2 separate regions of the Homo sapiens genome follow, and region 2 is linked to region 1. The links come from fine-mapping of genetic effects on gene expression. A gene starts in region 1. The other region holds a variant in brackets. All regions are shown on one strand. Distances are between the middles of the regions. Region 1 holds the start of AKAP10 (A-kinase anchoring protein 10). Region 2 overlaps AKAP10 (A-kinase anchoring protein 10).

Region 1 (8,340 bases):
ACTATATTTGTTAGAATGTTTGTTGTAGAATACTATTCATTGATTTTTAAACAATGTTAGATTAAACCATTCACTGGATTTGTGATAATTAACTTACTGATTTTACCTCACTGATTTGTTGTAATTAATACAACTGGTATAAAAAGACTGTGACGAGGCCGGGCATGGTGGCTCCCGCCTATAATCCCAGCACTTTGGGAGGCTGAGGCAGGCGGATCACCTGAGGTCAGGAGTTCAAGACCAGCCTGACCAACATGGTGAAACCCCATCTTTACTAAAAATACAAAATTAGCCGGTCGTGGTGGTGCATGCCTGTAATCCCAGCTCTTCGGGAGGCTGTGGCAGGAGAATCACTTGAACCCGGGAGGTGGAGGTTGCAGTGAGCCGATATCGCGCCATTGCACTCCAGCCTGGGCAACAAGAGCGAAACTCCGTCTAAAAAAAAAAAAGAAAAAAAACACATAAAACAAAACAACACTGTGACGGTTCCCAAAAATTAGGAGCATAATTAAAGGAACTCCTGATAAAAATTAATTTTATCTTACATGTAAACTAAAATGACTTTATGAAGTTAATTCAGAAATACAATGCAGGGTATTAGTTTGCCACAGCTGCGTATTCAGCCTAATGTAATATTCTTGTTATTTTTAAATTCTTCTTTTAACTTTACTCATATGTGGATCATCAAATTTCAAAAGATTAAATGACAATACTCTTAGCAGCAAGCTTCCCTAAGCATATAAACATTTTAATGGGTGATGATTCAGAAGGTACCCGAAGAATATGTACTGCCAGATATCATTCACCCCCATATACCTGCCCGACAGACATCCCATTTTGGGACCCTGGATAAATGTGTGGGTGGAGAGAAAGATAGGAGAAAGTGGTATAAGCAAATGGCTTTGGAGTCTGATTGACAGCGATTGAAATCCTGTCTCTACCTCTTAACAGCCTCATGATCCTACATAAGTTACCCCGATCCTCAGGGCCACATCTGTAAATTGGGGGTTGCGATGGCAGCCATCTCACAGGGTCTCTTTTCGGGGAAGGGCAGGAATTATGGATTAAGTGAGCTAGTAATTGTAAAGCACTTAATACAAGGAGGGCGCATAATAAGTACTTCATAAATAATGACGGCCATTATCATGACTGAGGTGTATGCAGCTGTCGGGGATTACGGCGACTTCAGAATTTCTGGTGGGCAGGGCTCAAAGGCAGCAAATCACACTGGAAGTCGAGGTGAGGCACTGCTTCTGCACAGACTGCTTAGCTGGAGAGAATGAGGAAGGCTTAGAGGAGATTTAGAGGAACTTAGAGTCCTCCGCCTCCAACTCTGTGGGATCTGCTCCCGTGCCAGAGACATTCAGGGGATTTCTCGCACTCTCCCCTCCCCTACGTCCCTCCCGCCCCATCCAACTAACCACACAACACATACAAAATAGCCCCTGCGAGGTTCTGCACGCTGGAAGGGAACAGGAGAAGGGCGCTGCGCTTTCTTGCTGATGCCCTGTACTTGGGCCCCTGGTAGACACAGCCACTTGTCCCCTCAGCCTGCAGAGAAATCCCACGTAGACCGCGCCCGGGTCCTTGGCTTCAGCCAATCTCCCTTTGGTGGGGGTGGGATGCACGATCCAAGGTTTTATTGGCTACAGACAGCGGGGTGTGGTCCGCCAAGAACACAGATTGGCTCCCGAGGGCATCTCGGATCCCTGGTGGGGCGCCGCTCAGCCTCCCGGTGCAGGCCCGGCCGAGGCCAGGAGGAAGCGGCCAGACCGCGTCCATTCGGCGCCAGCTCACTCCGGACGTCCGGAGCCTCTGCCAGCGCTGCTTCCGTCCAGTGCGCCTGGACGCGCTGTCCTTAACTGGAGAAAGGCTTCACCTTGAAATCCAGGCTTCATCCCTAGTTAGCGTGTGACCTTGAGCAGTTGACTTTATTTTTCAGTGCCTAGTTTTCCAGATACCAGGACTGACTCCAAGGACTATTACTCATCTGGAGGGTTTAGCACAGTACCGTCGCATAGTAAATTTCCATGTCAGTTTTGGTTACCTTTCATGCACTTGCAAACATGCCATGCTCTGAAACGAAATAGGCACATCTTTTTTTTTTTTTTTTTTAAGGAGTCTTCCTCTCGCCCAGGCTGGAGTGCAGTGGCGCGATCTTGGCTCACTGCAACCTCCACCTCCCGTGTTCGAGATTCTCCTGCCTCAGCCTCCTGATTAGCTGGGACTACAGGCATGCCACGACGCCCAGTTAATTTTTGTATTTTTAGTAGAGACGGGGTTTCGCCATCTTGGCCAGGCTGGTCTAACTCCTGACCTCAGGTGATCTGACTGCCTCAGCCTCTCAAAGTGTTGGGATTACAGGCATAAGCCACTGCATCTGGCCAGAAATGAAATAAGTAAATCTTTTAACCTGCTCTAACAATATAGTGAAAAGACCATATTATTATTAGAGCAGGTTAAGGGATTTGCCTATTTCGGGTTCTAGTTATAGTCTTAAACTTGGACATTCTTGTAGAAAGTAAAAAGTTTCCTCTTCAAAGTTCCCCTTCTTGTTAAAGAATACATCATAAGTGTTAGAAGTAATAGTTTATTTTAAAGACTAACTTTCTTCAAGCCTCCTTGCTTTGTGCTAATAACTCTTTGTTAAGCCCTATCCTATGTAACTGTTGGACATGCTCACAGGCACGTTCCAGTTCACAGCCTATGCCCCTTCCTTATTTGGAAATGTTATTGCTTCCTTAAACCTTTCGGTAAGCAACTTCCTCTCCTTCTTCGTTCTTCCTTGCACTTACCTATTTAGAAAGTTTTAGGCTATTAGCAAATCGGCTATCAGTTTAAGAGTGTGAGGTCCCGCTCCAGCCAATGGATGCAGGACATAGCAGTGAGGACGACCCAAATGCGTAAGGGATAAATATGTTTGCTTTTCCTTTGTTCAGGTGTGCTCTCGACATCGTTCCATCTGCGATTGAGCACCCTTTCTGCAGAAAGTAAAGATTGCCTTGCTGGAGATCTTTTGTCTCCGTGCTGACTTTTCTTCGTGGCACCGATTATCTATTTCTAACAATTTTGGTATTTCTAACATTCTGAACAATCTTGGGCTAGTTGTCTCTTCTGGGCCTGTTTCCCCATCCGTCACATGATAAACTTCATTGGTTTAAAAACCCCAGCGAACATTTATTGAGTTACTATTACCTTCCTGCCCTCCCCAACCCCAACCCCAGGGAGCAGTTACAACCTCAGCCGCTGAGCGCACTCGCCGGGTGTTAAGAAGCACCAAAGACAGGGAGGCTTGATTGATTTTGCTTTGGGAGTAGAGGGTCAGAAGATTCACAGGAAAATGGCATTTGAGCAAGGATGATTCACTGGAGCTAGCTTTTAAATACTGGCGAGGCTTTTATGTTGCAGTCCCTTACAAAGTTGAGCATTCGCAGGGACTGCACTCCGAAATAAGCCCGCTTCCCCTTTTCATTCGCTAATGATCCAGGGAGCTGCTGGTTCCGCATGCGGCAGGTTGTGCCTTTTCCTAATCAGGGTTCTGCATCGCCTCGAACCCGCAGGCCGTGGCGGGTTCTCCTGAGGAAGCAGGGACTGGGGTGCAGGGTGAAGCTGCTCGTGCCGGCCAGCGCCTGTGAGCAAAACTCAAACGGAGGAGCAGGAGGGGTCGAGCTGGAGCGTGGCAGGGTTGACCCTGCCTTTTAGAAGGGCACAATTTGAAGGGTACCCAGGGGCCGGAAGCCGGGGACCTAAGGCCCGCCCCGTTCCAGCTGCTGGGAGGGCTCCCGCCCCAGGGAGTTAGTTTTGCAGAGACTGGGTCTGCAGCGCTCCACCGGGGGCCGGCGACAGACGCCACAAAACAGCTGCAGGAACGGTGGCTCGCTCCAGGCACCCAGGGCCCGGGAAAGAGGCGCGGGTAGCACGCGCGGGTCACGTGGGCGATGCGGGCGTGCGCCCCTGCACCCGCGGGAGGGGGATGGGGAAAAGGGGCGGGGCCGGCGCTTGACCTCCCGTGAAGCCTAGCGCGGGGAAGGACCGGAACTCCGGGCGGGCGGCTTGTTGATAATATGGCGGCTGGAGCTGCCTGGGCATCCCGAGGAGGCGGTGGGGCCCACTCCCGGAAGAAGGGTCCCTTTTCGCGCTAGTGCAGCGGCCCCTCTGGACCCGGAAGTCCGGGCCGGTTGCTGAATGAGGGGAGCCGGGCCCTCCCCGCGCCAGTCCCCCCGCACCCTCCGTCCCGACCCGGGCCCCGCCATGTCCTTCTTCCGGCGGAAAGGTAGCTGAGGGGGCGCCGGCGGGGAGTCAGGCCGGGCCTCAGGGGCGGCGGTGGGGCAGGTGGGCCTGCGAGGGCTTTCCCCAAGGCGGCAGCAAGGCCTTCAGCGAGCCTCGACCTCGGCGCAGATGCCCCCTGAGTGCCTTGCTCTGCTCCGGGACTCTTCTGGGAGGGAGAAGGTGGCCTTCTTGCGCGAGGTCAGAGGAGTATTGTCGCGCTGGTTCAGAAGCGATTGCTAAAGCCCATAGAAGTTCCTGCCTGTTTGGTTAAGAACAGTTCTTAGGTGGGGGTTAGTTTTTTTGTGTTTCTTTGAGGACCGTGGATCAAGATCAAGGAAATCTCTTTAGAACCTTATTATGGAAGTCTGAAGTTTCCAAATGTTGAGGGTTTTATGTCTAAAAGCAACACGTGAAAAAATTGTTTTCTTCACCCAGTGCTGTCTTCCAATTTCCTCTTTGGGGGGAGGGGTAGTTACTGCTGTTACTAAAATAAAATTACTTATTGCTAAAGTTCCCCAACAGGAAGACCACTACTTTTGATGACTTTGGCAAGTTTGCTAACTACTGGAACCCTAACTTACAAACGAACTACTTACATTTTTGATTTCCAGTTGTATTACCTGCCCAATGTTTACGTAGAAACAGCTTAATTTTGATTCTGGGTAACGTTGTTGCACTTCATTAAAAATACATATCCGAAGTGAGCAAGTATGGGTCTGTGGACAGCAGTGATTTTTCCTGTCAATTCCTGTTGCTTCAGATAAAATGTACCAGACAGAGGCCGGGCGCGGTGGCTCACGCCTGTAATCCCAGCACTTTGGGAGGCTTGGCGGGTGGATCACCTGAGATCGGGAGTTCAAGACCAGCCTGACCAACATGGAGAAACCCCGTGTCTACTAAAAATACAAAATTAGCCAGGGTGGTGGCGCATGCCTGTAATGCCAGCTACTTGGGAGGCTGAAGCAGGAGAATCGCTTGAACCTGGGAGGCGGAGGTTGCGGTGAGCCGAGATAGCACCATTGCACTCCAGCCTGGGCAAAAAGAGCGAAACTCCGTCTCAAAAAAAAAGTACCAGACAGAAATGGGTTTTGTTTTCTTTTTTTGTTTTGAGACGGAGTTTCGCTCTTGTTGCCCAGGCTCGAGTGCAATGGCGCGATCTCAGTCTCGGCTCACTGCAACCTCTGTCTCCCAGGTTTAATCGATTCTCCTGCCTCAGCCTCCCAAGTAGCTGGGATTACCCATGCCCCACCATGCCCGGCTAATTTTTGTATTTTTAGTAGAAACGGGGCTTCACCATGTTAGGCTGGTCTTGAACCCCTGACCTCAAGTGGGCCTCCCACCTCGGCCTCCCAAAGTGCCAGGATTACAGGCATGAGCCACCGCGGCCAGCCAGAAATGGGTTTTGGAAAAAGCACTAAACAAAATCGAACTTGGTTTCATATGACAGCTCTGCTGCTAACTGTAACAGGGGCAGACCAGTTAACCTACTTTTCTGTCTTCTGTCAGCTGAGAATTAGATGATTCCCAAAGGCCCATTGAACTCTGAATGACTTTAAATACTTCTTCTTAAGTGGGTACACGGTTTTGGTAACTGATGCCAGGTGATGAATGCATGAAAGTGCTTAATGAATGAAACCGGTAAAATAGTAGGAGGAAGCTTTATTGGTAAGGCAGGGGTATACCTAATAGCTCTCTAATTTATTGGTATTGAAGTGGTTAACTTTTGTTTTTTTAAGGGGGGAAAACATTCTAAGAATAATGAGGCAAACTGCATATTGCACAAGAGACTGTTGTCTCTATTCAACAAATACCTTTTGAGTGTCCAGAGTCTGCCAGGTGCTGTGCTAGGCCCTCACGATTGAGTAGTGAACCAGAGAATGTCCCTGCACCCATGGAGCTTATTGTCTACTGGGGTAGACAGATAATAAATAAGCAAACAAATCTTCTCTCTTCTCCCTTTCGCTCCATGTAAGTGTGTGTGTATAGGTGTATACTTACAAGTTGAGTAAAGTGTTATGAAAGATTAAGAGGAGAAATGCATTTTGGTTAGATGTTAGAGGACTCAGCAGGTGACCTTGAAACTTAGAGCTGAAGGATCAGTAGGAGGTAACTAGAGAGGCCAGGGAATCGCATGTTCAAAGGCCAGGAGGCAAGAAAGAGCATGGTGCCCTTCAAGAGAGGAAAGAAGGCTACTGTGACTGGAGCATAGATGTAGGCAAGTGTTGGGTGATTGAGAGCTCTACGGGCCATGGTTAGGTTTTATTCCTAATGCCGAGATGCCAAACATGGTGGTTCATATCTGTAATCCCAGTATTTTAGGAGGCCGAGGCAGGAATATAGCTTGAACCCAGGAGTTCAAGACCAGCCTGAGCAACATGAGACCTGTACAAAACATTTAAAAAATTGCTGGGTATGATGGTGCACACCTGTGGTCCCAGCTACTCAGGAGGCTGAGGCAGAAGGATCACTTGAGCCTAGGAGGTGGAGGCTACAATGAGCCATATTTGAGTCACTACACTCCAGCCTGGATGACAAAGTGAGACCATGTGTCAAACAAAATACAGAAAGAATATTAATTTAAAATTTTGAAAGAGGAGTGATCTGAACTTATATCTTAAAAAGATCATTCTAGGGCATGGTGGCTCATGCCTGTAATCAAGGGCTTTGGGAGGCTGAGACAGGAGGATCACCTGAGGCCAGTTCGAGATCAACCTGTACAGCATAGAGAGACTCCATCTCTACAAAAAGAAAAAATAAATAGCTGGGTGTTGTGAGTTATTCAGGAGGCTGAAGCAGAAAGATCACTTGAGCCCAGGAGTTTGAGGCTGCAGTAAGCTATGATCCCACCACTGCAACACAGTGAGATCTTGTCTCAAAAAAAAAAAAAAATCATTCTAGGTGCTTTTTGGAGGCTGGATGTGGTAAGAGTAGAAGCTGGAGATGGTCCTGTTAGGGATTCGATTCAGACTTTAAATACCATCAATGCATTGAGTCCCAAATTTACATCACTACGTTGGATCCTTGCCCCTGAATCCAGACTGGTATATCCAACTTTAGGTTCAGTTTGTATCTCTACCTGACCAATATAGAGGTGTCCAGTCTTTTGGCTTCCCTAGGCCACATTGGAAGAAGAATTGTCTTGAGCCACACATAGAGTACACTAACGCTAACAATAGCAGATGAGCTAAAAAAAAATCGCAAAACTTATAATGTTTTAAGAAAGTTTACGAATTTGTGTTGGGCACATTCAGAGCCATCCTGGGCCGCGGGATGGACAAGCTTAATCCAGTAGATACCTTCAACTTACAATATCTAAAATTTTATGCCAGATTTAGTCATTTTAAACCTGCTCATCAGTTTTTCTCAAGAAGTAGTATTTTGGCTTTTTTTCTTTTCTTTTTTTTGAGATGGAGTTTCGCTCTTATCGTTCAAGCTGGAGTGCAGTGGCGGATCTTGGCTCACTGCAACCTCCGCCTCCTGGGTTCAAGTGATTCTCCTGCCTCAGCCTCGCAAGTAGCTGGAATTACAGGCATGCGCCACCATGACCAGCTAATTTTTGGAGACAGGGTTTCACCATGTTGGTCAGGCTGGTTTTGTACTCCTGACCTCAGGTGATCTGCCTGCCTCGGCCTCCCAAAGGCTGGGATTACAGGCATGAGCCACCGCTCCCGGCTGCATTTTTGGATTTTTAGTTGCTCAGCCCAAAACTTTAGTACATCTTTGAACCTCTTCTTTCCTCCTACTCTATATCTGATCCATCAGCAAATCTGTTAGGTCTACCTCACACATATCGAAATCCTACCACGTCTCACCATCTGTGACAATTAACACCCTGGTCTAGGCAGTCATCTCTGTTAAGATTGAGTGGTTAAGGATGTCCTCTAAGGAGATGACATTCAAATCTTAGCTTAAATGTCAAGAGGGAGCTGGTTTTATAAAGATTGAGGAGGCAGCATTATTTTGCCATAGGCTTCCATTTGGTTTCCATTCCATTCTTGATACTTATGGTATATATTCAAAACAAATGCACAGAAACAGACCCAGGTATATTGGGAATTTCGGATATAGAGT
Region 2 (8,340 bases), 33 kb after region 1:
GTAGTGAATTTTAAATTTTGTTTATTATGTTTTTTAGTTCTAAAATTTTCTTTTTTTGTGTATGTCTTATACTTTGCTCCTGAAACTCTTATTTGTTTCAGGAGTGATCTTATTTCTTAGAGCATGGTTTTAGTAGCTACTTAAAATTTGTTTTATCATCCCAGCATATGTGTCCTCTTGATTGTCTTTTCTCTTGTGAGATAATGGGATTTTCTGGTTCTTTATATGACAATTAATTTTGGATTGTATCTTGGACAGTTTGACTTACGTTACATGATTCTGAATCTTGTTTAAATCCTGTGGAAAATATTGAAGTTTTTGCTTTAACAAGCAGTTGACCTAGTTAGGTTCAGTCCACAAATTCTAAGCAGCATTCTGTCGGCTCTGGTTCCATCATCAGTTCAGTTTTGTATCTTATCTGCTTATGTGCCTTTCTGTGTCCAGTCTGGGACCTGGCCAATGGTCAGGTCCCAAAGCCTTTGTACACTTTTAGAAGCAGGGCCATGCACACCCAGCTCACGAGTGGCCCCGGGAGTGCACATACAACTCGACGTTTTCATGGGCTCCTTCTTTTCTGTGATGTCCCTGACACGTTCTGCCTTCTAAGAACCTCCCTTTATCCCTTTCCTGTTGTCTGGCTAGAAAGTCAGGGCTTTAGATTCCCTATACTTCAGCACACTTCCTGTAGCTATGTCAACCTCTGTGGCCACGACTTCTTCTTCTTGGGACTGCAGTTTCTCTTGTCAGAAAGTAGGATTCTTGGAGCTGCTGTCATTGCTGCTGTGGCTGCTCTGATGCTGCCTGGGAGTCGAAGGAGAGAAAGGAACAAAACAAAACAACCCAGGGGATTTCCTCCACTCTCTTTGATCCGTGAGAGCCCCCTTTCCTGTTCCTCAGACCAGAAATAGAGGGCCTGTCTTGGAACTTCTTCTTTGTGCATCTGGTGTGCAGTTTCAGCTTTTGAGTCCAGGCCAGGAGGTGCTGGACAAACTTGTCAGGAGTACGGAGGTACTGCAAGTTCTGATTACTTTTCTCAGTCCACCTGCTTCCAAGTCCTTGGATGCATTTGTCCATTGTTTTGAGTTGCATTCCATGGGAGAGACAGAAGAGTGTGCTTATTTCATCTTGACATACTTATTAGGATTTCATATCAAATCAACGGATGATATTCTCTATATTAATTTGCTGTTTTCCCTTTAGCAAGCACATTAGGAAAATAACACTTTAACACCCGCCTTTGGTGGTTTCTGTCATAATTATTAATACTTGACTTTTTTTTTTTTTTTGAGACGGAGTCTCACTCTGTCCTTTGAGGCATTGTCCCCATAAACTTTTGGTAAAGCATCAATAATTTTATCTTTCATCCACACAAGCTTCACCATAAATTTGATGTTTATTCTTCCATTTTAGCAGAATTCATGTTGCTCCAATAGGGGCTGTCTTCAAACTGATGTTTTCTCCTTCTTAGTGCCTCAGAGTAGATCCTGTTCAGATACGTTATAACAGGTTAATATGAGTTTATTTTGGTGTAAAAGTACTTTGAAATTCATGCATAGTTTTTTCATCATATGCATTTTCCATAGCTTTGAACACCCCCATGTAACTCTCCTCTTCCACAAACCAAACAATGAAAAAGCACCTTTGTGATGGAAGTTTATTTTGCAATAGGAACTCACAGTGATCTAAGCCCTGCTATTCATGAATATAATTCATTACTGGAGTCCAAGTTGCTTTTTGGTTTTTGAAGTTCTCTTCTTCCCTTGCAGGTATAGAACAAGATGCAGTGAATACTTTTACCAAATATATATCTCCAGATGCTGCTAAACCAATACCAATTACAGAAGCAATGAGAAATGACATCATAGGTAAGCAGTGCTTGAAACTATGGCAAAAAAAAAATGACAAAAAATGCACAGAACTGACAATTTTCGTTATTGACTAAGATAATTTTTTCTTAACATGGAATTTAGCAGTTCCCTTCCTAATTTGTTTTCTGAGTATTTTTTATATCGGATTATAGCTCACTTTAAAAGTTTCTCGGCTGCATTCGGTGCGAGGGTCTTTGCCTGGGCCAGATGGGCTGCAGTGTAGCGGGTGCTCAGGCCTGCCCGCTGCTGAGCAGCCGGGCCGGCGGGCGGCTACGCTAACCGGCACAGACCACCGGATGGACTGGCCGGCAGCCCCGCACCAGTGCACGAAGTGGGCGGGACAGAAACTTCTGGGGTTGGAAGTCCAGTGAGGCTAAAAGCCGGTACCAAAGTCTCTAGGCATCAGGGCTGCAGCCCAAGAGTCTCACGACCAGTGGGCAACTGGATGGCCAGACAGGTGTCTCAGTGGTGGCCTCTCCGTCTCAGGGCTTCATCCCACTTCTCAGTGGGCCTGACGTCCCTGGGCACCCTGGATGTCTACCTGCATTAGCCAGAGCCATCACATGGCCTGTGACTTGCCTTTTTTTGCCAGTTGATTGTGCCACACACAGTGTCATTTCTGTGTCATTTGGCACAGCTGGAGGTGCAAGGAGGAGGGCAGCCTCATGTCCAGTCCCAGTTTCACGTAACTTTATTCTTCTGAATAAAGACAATTTGCTAACCTTAAAAAAAAAAAAAAAAAAAAAGTTTTTCTTATATGTTGGACCCAAATTCTTAGGCTTTAACCTGAATAACAATGACAGCAAGATCAATAAATAGTACACATTTATTAAACACTCACTGTGTCCCAGACAATATTCCAAGCACTTTTTATGGATAGACTCATTTTAACTTCTAAAGAACTTTGTGGGATAAATACAGTTATTTTATAGATGAAGAAACTGAAGCACAGAGAAGTTAAGTGCTTTGTCCAGGGTAACAGCTCAGATATGGCAGAGTCAGGATTTGAAACTAGACCCTCACATACCTTAACTGCTGTGCTGTGGCAGTGTTTTTCATACTGTAGGTTGGGACCAGCCTTCTCTTATGCCCTCACCCCCTGCCAAAAAAAAAAAAAAAAAAAAAAAATATATATATATATATATATATATATATATATATATATAATATATATATATATAAAATATATATATATATAAAATATATGTATTAGTATATATGCATATATAGTATATATTATATATTAGTATATATACTAATATATAATATACATATTAGTGTGTGTATATATATATATACTAGAATAAAAAAATCAAAGTATCTCAGAGTAGTAAGGACAAACATTTCAGAAAAATGTTTTCATTATATATACATGTATGTATGTGTATGCTGATTCAACAAATATATTTCTTATAGGTTATAGCAAAATAGTTTGAAAGCTTTTACTGTGTTTTATCAGGAAGACCTTAGGTGAACGTATATTCACAGATAAAAGAGGTTATTTATTCATTCAATAAATATTACATTCTCATAAGTCCTAATATTATGTATTTTTATTCTTCAAAAAAGTTAGTATTTGTGATTTATGAAATAAGACATGTTCTTGCACTTTTAGCAGATCTGTCCCGATGTTGGGCTTCTTTAATCCTTAGTGTGGGTGCTTTGCACTCACTCACTGCTGGGGACAGCAAGACCCCTGTTAGTCTCAGCTGTGTTTCTTAAATTGGCCCACTGTACCTTCCAGTTAGCTATTCTGGGGTCCATGTCATGTTGGCTCCATTTTCCTTTTCTTTCTCCCACACAGATACCTATAACGGCTATAACATAGGCCTGGTGGCTGTTGGTGGCTTATCCCTATCTGCTTGTATTTAAGGGGTACTGTTTCACTGAGTTTTGCTGACAGATGTTGTCATGAGATTTGAGGTTTTCTGTGTTGTTGCTCTATTTTTATGTGGGAATTTGCTACTATCATCATCCCTAGACCAGCTTTTCCTAGTAATACAACAGGGATGTTCTGACTGATTAGAGTTTGCCTGTTTGAAGAATTGGTTGGCTAGTGATTTTTTTTTGAGGGGAGTCTGTACCAGTTAATAGCCTGACTGGCGTGTGGATAAAAAGGAAG[C/G]AGTTTCAAGTCAAATAAAACACTTAAAATGAAACCACACTGCAACTCTCTTTCTTTTACTTAAGCTTAATCAAATTAATGATGATGTAATCCCATGAAGGAAAAGTCTTCTGAAGGATCAAGTTGATAACATTTTGTGATCAAAGAATTTGAGAAAACCTCTATCCCAGTGTCTATCATTATATATTTTAGGATGTTAATTACCTGTGTGGCTTTAGGCAAGTCATTTTTCCTCCTTGAGCCCCATTCTTAATCCTGTCCAAATTATTTGTCTCCTCTTGCAGTTGGACTATTTTAATATAGCTGTCCTTCAAGTGAGTTTTGTTCAAAGGAGCCTTCACTTTAGCTCTTACTGTGTACCCACTTTGCATAGTCTTGTTTTAAATGTAATCCTTGGATTTTTGGTGTTGCTAACTAATTACTGTTTTTATGTGAGGATTTAGAGTGATCCAGAATCTATACTTGCACTACCTCCTTCATCTTCCACAAATGTTTGAAGTGGTAGAATTTTTAAAAACTTTGAAGGTACAGCTGACAGAATTTGCTGATGGTTTGGAAGTGAGTGGTATGAGAGGGAAAAAAAGGAATAAAGCATGACTGCATTTTTTGTTTGTTTGTTTGTTTGTTTTTGAGACGGAGTCTCACTCTCGCCAGGCTGGAGTGCAGTGGCGTGATCTTGGCTCACGGCAACCTCCGCCTCCTGGGTTCAAGCGATTCCCCTGCCTCAGCCTCCCAAGTAGCTGGGACTACAGGCGCTCGCCACCACGCCTGGCTAATTTTTTTTTTTGTATTTTAGTAGAAACGGGGTTTCACCGTGTTGGCCAGGATGGTCTCCATCTCCTGACCTCATGATCTACTCACCTTGGCCTCCCAAAGTGCTGAGGTTACAGGCATATATATAAGCATATAAAGTGTGTTATAGCATACAAACAGGTATATATATAAACATGCAGTCCACACAGCTGATAGGAATGAGGCAGTAGTGAAGGAGAAGTTGATGTAGGAGAGGGGACAGTTGTTACAGGAAAGAAGTCTGGAGGCAGAAGGGATGAATTCCAGTGCTCACATAGAAGATTGCTTAGATGGGAGCAAGGACAATTTATCTAGAGTCACAGGAAAGAATGCAGTACACGGGTAGAGATGCAGGTGAGTTGAAAGATGTGAGAGATGATGGAAATAATTTTCTGATTGCTTCTATATTCTCAAGGAAGCAGGAAGCAAAGTCCTCAGCAAAGAGAATAGAAGAGGTGTTAAATATTTGAGAAAGGAGATGTACTGTAGAAAAAAAAAAAACTCAGTTTCTCCTTCTGAACTCTCACAAAACAGAACCCTTCCATGACTCTAGTTGTGTGGGGTTTTTTCCCTGTCAGCTACCAATTCTGCAGATGATTGTTCAGTGAACACCAACTGGGTGTCCTCTAAGTCAGTTCAGTTCTCACACTGTTTACCTGGAGATAGCATCAGATCCCACAGATTGAGGACTCTGTCCCACAAGACTGCCTCCACTTCAGATGCCAGTCTCAAGTACAAGTTGTGGCCTGTGCTTCTGACTGACCTTCTATAAATTGGAGTTCCCACAGTCCCCTCCTTGGGTTCAATAAATTTGCTAGAGCAGCTCTCAGAACTCAGGGAAATGCTTTACATATATTTACCCATTTATTATAAAGGATATTACAAAGGATACAGATTGAACAGGCAGATGGAAGAGATGCATGGGCAAGGTATGGGAGAGGGGCACAGAGCTTCCATGCACTCTCCAGGTCATGCCACCCTCCAAGAACCTCTACAGATTTAGCTATTCAGAAGCCCCCCTCCCCATTCTGTCCTTTTGGGTTTTTTGTGGAGACTTCATTATATAGGCATGATTGATCATTGGCTATTGGTGATCAGCTCAACCTTCAGCCCCCTCATCCCGGGAGGTTGGTGGGTAGGGCTGAAAGTCCCAAACGTGTAATTCTGCCTTGGTCTTTCTGGTGATTAGCCCTCATCCTAAAGCTCTTTAGAGGCCACAGCCACAAGTCATCTCATTAGCCTTCAAAAGAATCCAGAGATTCCATGAATTTTAGGCGCTGTATGCTAAGAAACTGGCTAAAGGCCAGTTGCAATGTCTCAGGCCTGTAATCCCAGCACTTTGGGAGGCTGAGGCAGGAGGATCGTTTCAGGCCATGAGATCAAAACCAGCCTGGTCAACATAGTGAGACCCCCTTACAAAAAATTTAAAAATTGGCCAGGCGTAATAGCTCTTGTCTGTAGTCTCAGCTACTCAGAAGGCTGAGGATCACTGAGCCCTGGAGTTGAAGGCAGCAGTGAGCCATGATCGTGCCACTGACTCCGGCTTGGGTGACAAAGTGAGACCTTGTCTCAGAAGAAAAAGGAAAAAAAAAAAACTGGGCAAAGACTAAATAACATATTTCACAGTATCACAGATTTGTATTGTCTAGGAAAGTGAATGTAAACAGACCAGGACACTAGTATGATCCCTTGGTTTCATGAAGGTCCCACTAAAGTCATGAACACAAAGTGAGACTAGGCATCATGTTATATGGTTTTTCCAGCCATGTTTAACAGCTAGCTAAATAGCTAATTGTTTCGCTGCAGTTTATTTTAGCAGTTCCTTATTTTAGCACATTTCATGTTTTAAAATTTCTACCAATAACATTTTAATAAACTTTTTTACAGATAACTTCACAAATCCATAATTTTTTAAGTTACAATCCCAGAAATAGAATTGCTCATTGAAAGGGTATGTTCATTTTTAAAGTTATGCTAGAAACTGCCAAATTGCCTTCAGAAAAAGGTGTTTGTATCCCCACTAACACTAGTGTTAGTTTTCTTGTGCCCTTGCTCAAGTATACATATTATTAAAAACAATGTTGGGCCAGTTTACTAGATAAAAGGTGTAGTGCCTCCTTATTCTAATCTATTTGATTACTAGTGAGTATGTATGTCTTTTCACGTTGGTCATTTTATGTTTGTTCCTTTGTGGATTGTCATGTCCTTTGCTCATTTTTCTTTTGGAACATTTCTTAGTAGTTTATAAGAGCTCTTGGTATTTTAATGATAGTAACCTTTTAACTGTCATGCATGCTGCAAATCTTTTTTCTGTTTGTTTGCCTTTGTATTTTGTTTTTGGAGGGTTTCTATGTATAGGAATTAAATTTTATGTTGTTAAATCTTTTGATTTCTGCTTTTGCATATGTACTTCAAAAGACTTTCTATTTTAAGATCAAGTGTTACCTGTATTTTCTTTTAGTTCTATTTAAAACCTCTTAATTTATATGCCTGTGCTGTTAACTCCCAAGTTGATTCACAAGTGTGTATACATAGTTTGAATTTAGTGGCAATTTAATTATTTACAACTTCTTTTGCAGCAAGGATTTGTGGAGAAGATGGACAGGTGGATCCCAACTGTTTCGTTTTGGCACAGTCCATAGTCTTTAGTGCAATGGAGCAAGAGTAAGTTAGTTCATATTTTCACATTGTGCATCCTAGGGAATTTGGGTTCATTGTTAGGAATGGGCTTCACTCAGCTAAAAACAAAGTATTTTTGAGAATTTAAATATTTTGGATATTTACAAGATCATATAAAGCATACTCTATCTTGGTTAACAGTTTCTTTTAAATATAAATTATGTGAACTCTTAAAATTTTCATTTTCATTTTCAATGTTAATATTTCCTAAGTTAAAATAATTTGTTTTTAGTTCTGAAATAATTTGGGGAGTGATTGAGTCTGTAGTGATTATGACTATTAGAATTGGTTTATTTATTTAAATAATGCATGTCTTCAGATGGCTCTCCTAATTTGTTAGTTAGGCTTTAAGCTAAATGGATGCTATATAACTAAATCCACATAGATTTGTTGAAATGGCTCCAGAGGTTTTTTAGATTTATTACTGCTATGTGCCCTTAAAAAAAATCTATTCATTCTTTCACTTAACATTTATCAGAAGAGTGCTCTGTGTAAGACGTGGTTAGGCATAGTGCCAGTCTTGAAGGAAGTTACAGCCTAATAAAAGACATAGGGCATGTTGTTTGGTTACTGTAATATGAAGTGGCATGTGTTAAATGTCAGGGGAGAACTACAAAGTCATAAAAAGGTGGGAGAGATTACATACAGGTAAAGGAATCAGGAATGACACCATGGGGAGTAAGGTAGTGTTGACCTAGGCCTTTAAGATACAATAGGGACAGTATGGAAAGAGTATATTTTTCCCACTTAAACTCTTTCCTTGGTCGTTCCCTCAAATTTTCCCTTTTGTCCATGTGCAGGCACTTTAGTGAGTTTCTGCGAAGTCACCATTTCTGTAAATACCAGATTGAAGTGCTGACCAGTGGAACTGTTTACCTG

What was found. PIP is the estimated chance that this variant, and not a neighbour inherited with it, causes the effect.
Region 2: its variant is fine-mapped to the expression of AKAP10 in whole blood (TOPMed, PIP above 0.99).

What each region holds. Positions count from the first base shown.
Region 1 is chr17:19,973,525-19,981,864 of GRCh38, reverse strand. It overlaps AKAP10 (A-kinase anchoring protein 10), which reads left to right and starts at 4,037. Exons shown (of 15, transcript NM_007202.4): 1 at 4,037-4,273. The coding sequence starts at 4,186. RefSeq lists an enhancer at 2,954-3,667 and a silencer at 4,140-4,329.
Region 2 is chr17:19,940,932-19,949,271 of GRCh38, reverse strand. AKAP10 (A-kinase anchoring protein 10) reads left to right here. Exons shown (of 15, transcript NM_007202.4): 5 at 1,767-1,865; 6 at 7,362-7,446; 7 at 8,262-8,340. Among named protein-coding and RNA genes, the nearest start is that of AKAP10, 33 kb to the left of the region's middle. The variant C/G (reference allele first, on the strand shown) is at 3,991.